2 separate regions of the Homo sapiens genome follow, and region 2 is linked to region 1. A link means that fine-mapping ties the variant in region 1 to the expression of a gene that starts in the linked region. Tissue or cell type: whole blood. Region 1 holds a variant in brackets; the other region holds the start of a gene. All regions are shown on one strand. Distances are between the middles of the regions.

Region 1 (2,681 bases):
CACAGCCAAGGAAACAGCAGCCCGCAGCTGCCACAATCAACTTCCTGGAGGACAAATGGCCATGCCACTCCTCAATCTGGAGTACAATGGCGCAATCTCGGCTCACTCCAACCTCTGCCTCCCAGATTCAAGCGATTCTCCTGCCTCAGCCTCCCAAGCAGCTGGAATTACAGGCGCCCACCACCACGCCTGGCTAATTTTTTGTGTTTTTAGTAGAGACGGGGTTTCACTATGTTGGCCAGGCTGGTCTCGAATTTCTGACCTCGTGATCCACCCGCCTCGGCCTCCCAAAGTGCCGGGACCACAGGGGTGAGCCACCGAGCCCAGCCCCCAGCTCTTTATAGAAAAAGCACCCACCTCCCTGCCCTGACTCTCCCGAGGGGACAGAGTCCTCTCCTTGCTCAGTCTGGGGCTGGACTGAGGGAGTCCCAGAGGAAGAAGAGGAGGAAGATAGAGGAGGTTGTGCTGGGCTTCCCAGCTTGCAGCATGGCTGGCAGACACAGTCTTGGGGAAGTGGAGCCAGCGGTGGGTGAGGCAGGGTGGCCCGAGCCCTCTCTCATGCTGGCTCTGCTGAGCATGGGGACTCCTGAGAAGGGGGTCTCACAAAATCCACTGTGAGGTTGCCACCGGGCTGTGGAACATGTAAATGAAAACCAAAGATGGTGCTTCATTCTGAGCTCATGTGATTTTCTTCTTTATTAAACTTCAGGAAGGAGAGCTAGAATTGGCTCCTTAGGATACCTCCCCGAGCCCTGGTACCCATCGTGGCTTCCTTCTCTGGCTCCTGTTTCAGAGACTTTGGAAGAACTGTCTCCTTGGTCTCAGACATCACGATACCCGGATCTCAGCTGCTCGCCACTGTGCAGCTGTCTGCAGGGCGGCTCTGTGGGGCTCCCCTCCATTGCCCCAACCACTGCGGGACTTGTTTTGTAGCAGGGCTGGTTTGGAAATTCCTTTTGGGTCACCTCCAGTGGTTCCACGGCAAGCTAAGGAATGGTGGCCAGAAGATGACGGACAAAACTTGAATACGAAGGTGGAGGAACCTTGTGGGCAGGGTGGGGTGGTCCCCTCAGGGTCCGTCTACCACAATCCAAAATAGCATTTTCCCTTTGACAAACCCTGGGCCACCAGAGAGAAGACCTGGGGCTGGGGTCTGCTGACTGTCATCCCAGGCTACTTTGCCTTGCAGATGCTCCTGTCCTGGCTCTGTGAACTGGAGATGCTGGTGGCCTCCATGGACATCCATTACGATATTTCCTCCCCGGGAGAGTCTCTGTCTCTCACTCCATCTTTCTGGACCGAGGCCAGGCAGGTGCTGTGGGCATGGCTGCCCTTAGTTGAGCATAGACCTTCCCTTGACCCTTCTTTTGTGATCTCCTCCCTTTAAGAAGCAGCTGCCCCTTTCTTTCTGCTGGTATGCAGTTCCTTGGTTCTCTTTG[G/T]AAATCAAGGGAATGGGGTACACAAAGGTCAGAAATGCCAAGAAGGGTAGAAACGGGAAGTCTGTTTTGAGTTACTCTGACCTCATCTCCCAGAGGCCTCTGTCCCTCCCTTGATTGGGTCTCTGCCTCAGTGTCTCCTCCTCAAACAGAACCCTCTCTACCCCCACTCCTCCCTATCATGTTCTCAGGAGTTTTGAGCCATTCCTGGCTTGAGTTTTTCTTCCCGGCACGTAGTATCCACAGCCTGACATGTCCACATGCATCTGCTCATCCAGGGAATAAGCTCCATGAGGGAAGGAGCTGCCTGGGCTGCAGCCAGCTGGATTCTGTGCCTAAAACAGGGCGCTGCACCCCCTGGGTGCTTCCTGGCAAGCTGTTATTGCTGAATATTTCTCCCATCCAAGTACTAACTGGGCATTATGGCCATAGACTGAAAACTTCTTTCCTTTGGGAGAAATCTCACACAGAAGAGGGTGCAGAGGGTTGCATGGTAGTCCCCAAAAGATAGCCATGTCCTAGAACCTAGGAATATGATTTATTTACAAAAAAAAGGGTCTTTGTGGATGTAATTAACTTCAGGAGGTAGAGATAAGATCATTCTAGATTATCTAGGTGGGCCCTGAATTCAATGACGAGTGTCCTTAGAAAAGACAACCAGAGGAGAGACCCACAGAGGAGAGGAGGAGGAAGGCTGCGTGAAGTGAAGGCAGAGACAGAGACCGGAATGATGCGGCCACCAGCCAAAGGATGCCTGCAGCCACCAGGAGCTGGAAAGCAGCAAGGAAGGGTCCTCCTTCCAGAGCCTGCAGAGAGCACAGCTATCTGCTGGCACCTTGATTTCCAACTTCTGTCCTTGGGAAGTGTGAGAGAATCAACTTCTGCTGTTCTAAGCCACCCAGTTTGTGGTAATTTGTTAGGCAGCCACAGGAGACTAATGCAGGGGCAGGCACCACCACACCTGGATGCTGGGCGTGGTGAAACAGACCCCGCTATGGGGCAAAGAGTCTGCAAGGAGAGACAGACAATAATTAAGCGAGGAAAAAAGTGTATATAATTACAGCTTGTGAAGATCTCGGAAGGAAACAGGTGGGATTGGGAGTCATGGGGCAGGGGGAGGGGAAGGCAGGAGTTGGCATTTCAGTTGCGGTCCAAGGTGGAGATCGGAAAGCATGGCAAAGCCTGAGTCCCCACCTGGCTCCTTACCCCGGCCTCTGAGTCTACTTGCTCCTTCCCCTGTCCTCC
Region 2 (2,681 bases), 400 kb after region 1:
GAGGCAGGAGTAATCGCTTGAACCCGGGAGGCGGAGGTTGCAGTGAGCCGAGATCGCGCCACTGCACTCCAGTCCGGGTGACAGAGCAAGGCTCTGTCTCAAAAAAAAATAAAAATAAATAAATAAATAAAACTGGTAAAACTTCTACAATACCAAGAGCTTAGAAAATGAGTTCTCCTGCCCCATGTGGGATTGGCAAGAGCAAAGAAGAGTCCCAAAAGAACAGAAAGTTTTCTGCAGAGTCTCAAGAGAAGAAAAAGTTTCTGGCAGAGTCCCAAGAGAACAAGAAGTTTTCTCTAACCGGCAGACCAGTAACAACTTTAGGACACAGCATCTCCATCACAGCTTACACAATGGGGCTCAGAATTCCTCACGATGGGGATATTAATTCCATCAACCCTGATTCGTTAGCAGCAGGGAGAATCATTCTCTGACCGTTCCAACTTTTAACATGCCAACAGCCTGTAGACTTGTACACACCTGCCACAGCAGCACATGGGCATTCCCGGCTGATTGATACAGGTTTGTTTTCTTTATTTCCTTTCTCCCCCTTTTAAACCTGTTGTTCCGCTTCCAAGAGTCAGTTCAAGAGGCTGGTGAAGTTGCAGAAGTGGAAACAGCACTAGGGCTGCTGGGCCTTAGTGGAGCTGCACACACATGCCCTAACTCCACGAGGGGGAATCCAGCAGAAGGATTCAGGTCTGGGCGGAGAGGACTGTGGAAAAGTTCTCTAATGCCTCGCTACTCAAAGCGTGGTCCGCGGACCACCCAACCTGGGAATTAGTTAGAAATGCACACTGTCACGCCCCACCCAGACCTGCTGCAAGTTAACCAGATTCCCAGTCAAGTTCCAGAGGTCCAGCTAACAGCCAGAGCAAGTGGGAGGGGCCTGGGAGCAGCTGGATTTGTAGCTGCCTCTGCTCCCAGGAATCCCGGGTACCCCCACACACCGCCTAGGAAGGGACGAACGAAGAGGATTTGGGTTAGGACTGTAAAAGGAAGGCATGTCATTGCCTTCCAGATCACCCTGGAGAGGGACATAGCCGGGGTCCGGGGACTTCCTTCCCACCGCCCCTCACCCTCCCACCCCGCCCCGACACCTGCCAAAGCCTCCAATTTCTCCTCCAAACCCCTCCTCTCTCCAGGCGTACCCCCTTCCAAGCTCCAGGTGGCTGCCCTTCCAAGTCCCACACTCTTGTCCTGATGGCCTCCGACCCCGGGCCTCGAGCCCAACCAAAGGCACCGAAGGAGAGAAAAGCCAACTCACTAGGGTGCCCTCTCCAGCCCCCACTGCACTTCCATCAGCCCCCGCTGCCACTCTCTCGCCGGCTCCACTCCCGCAGTCACTTCCTGCTTCCCTCCCGCACACGTGGCCCTCCCGCCTCCGGGCCCCGCCCCCTTGGCCGCAACTGGCAACTCCCGCCTGAAGAATAGATTCTCTGGTTCACAGCCGTCTGCAGGCTCAGGAACAGATCTGGGCGGGCAGAACAGAGCCCTGAGGCCAAGAGCCCAGCAGTCTGCGAGTGACTGCAGCCCTAAGGGAAGCTACAAACACCCAAGGAAAGAGCCCTTTGTAACACCCCTGATGTTACTTATGCTTCTACACCTTTGGCAGCCAGGTCCATGCCACTGGGTGCGCAGCAGAGCAGGATGTGCTGTGTGTGTGTTGCGGGAGAGGCTGGGGGCGGGTAATGTGATGGCATCGGCATCATTCTCCAGTCAATGACCCTCAAAAGAATCACTGGAGGGGGTCAAACACAAAATGCCAGCACCCCCAGAGGCTCTGGTTCCGTCATTCTGGGTGGGGCTGACATTTTGGGATTTTTTTGTTTTTGCTTTTGTTTTTTTGAGATGGAGTCTCGCTCTTTCGCCCAGGCTGGAGTGCCGTGGCCCAATCTCGGGTGATTGCAGCCTCTGCCTCCTATGTTCAAGCGATTCTCCTGCTTCAGCCTCCCGAGTAGCTGGGATCACAGGTGCATGCTGCCAAGCCCCGCTAATTTTTGTTTTTTTTTTTTTTTTTTTTTTTTTTTAGTAGGGACGGGGTTTCACCACGTTGCCCAGGCTGGCCTCGAACCCCTGACCTCAAATGATCCACTCGTGTGGGCCTCCCAAAGTGCTGGATTATAGGCATGAGCCACCGCGCCTGGCCTGAGATCTTGTTTTGAGCTAGGAGTTGCTGATGCTGCTGTCCTGGGACCACCCTTTGAAAAGCACTGCCCTAGGTCAAAGGCTTTGATCTGCAGGATTTCTGTGAAAAGACCAGAGGATAGGATTGACTAGATTTAGCCAAAAACAAAACAAAATAAATAAATAGATAGAAACAAGATGCCTGGGCTGGGCGCTGTGGCTCACGCCTATAATCCCAGCACTTTGGGAGGCCGAGGCGGGCAGATCACAACGTCTGGAGATCGAGACCATCCTGGCTAATACGGTGAAACCCCGTCTCTACTAAAAATACAAAAAATTAGCTGGGCGTGGTGGCAGGCGCCTGTAGTCCCAGCTACTCGGGAGTCTGAGGCAGGAGAATGGCGTGAACCCGAGAGGCCGAGCTTGCAGTGAGCCAAGATCACGCCACTGCACTCCAGCCTGGGCAACAGAGCAAAACTCCATCTCAAAAAAAAAAAAAAAAGCCTGATTAAATTTGAATTTCAGAAAAATAACGTCATTTATTACTATAAATA

The links. PIP is the estimated chance that this variant, and not a neighbour inherited with it, causes the effect.
Region 2: it holds the start of SLC39A11, and the variant in region 1 is fine-mapped to the expression of SLC39A11 in whole blood (TOPMed, PIP above 0.99).

The regions. Positions count from the first base shown.
Region 1 is chr17:72,693,633-72,696,313 of GRCh38, forward strand. All of the region lies in intron 7 of SLC39A11 (solute carrier family 39 member 11), which reads right to left. Among named protein-coding and RNA genes, the nearest start is that of LINC00511, 55 kb to the left of the region's middle. The variant G/T (reference allele first, on the strand shown) is at 1,440.
Region 2 is chr17:73,091,344-73,094,024 of GRCh38, forward strand. It overlaps SLC39A11 (solute carrier family 39 member 11), which reads right to left and starts at 1,345. Exons shown (of 10, transcript NM_139177.4): 1 at 1,268-1,345. RefSeq lists a silencer at 274-505.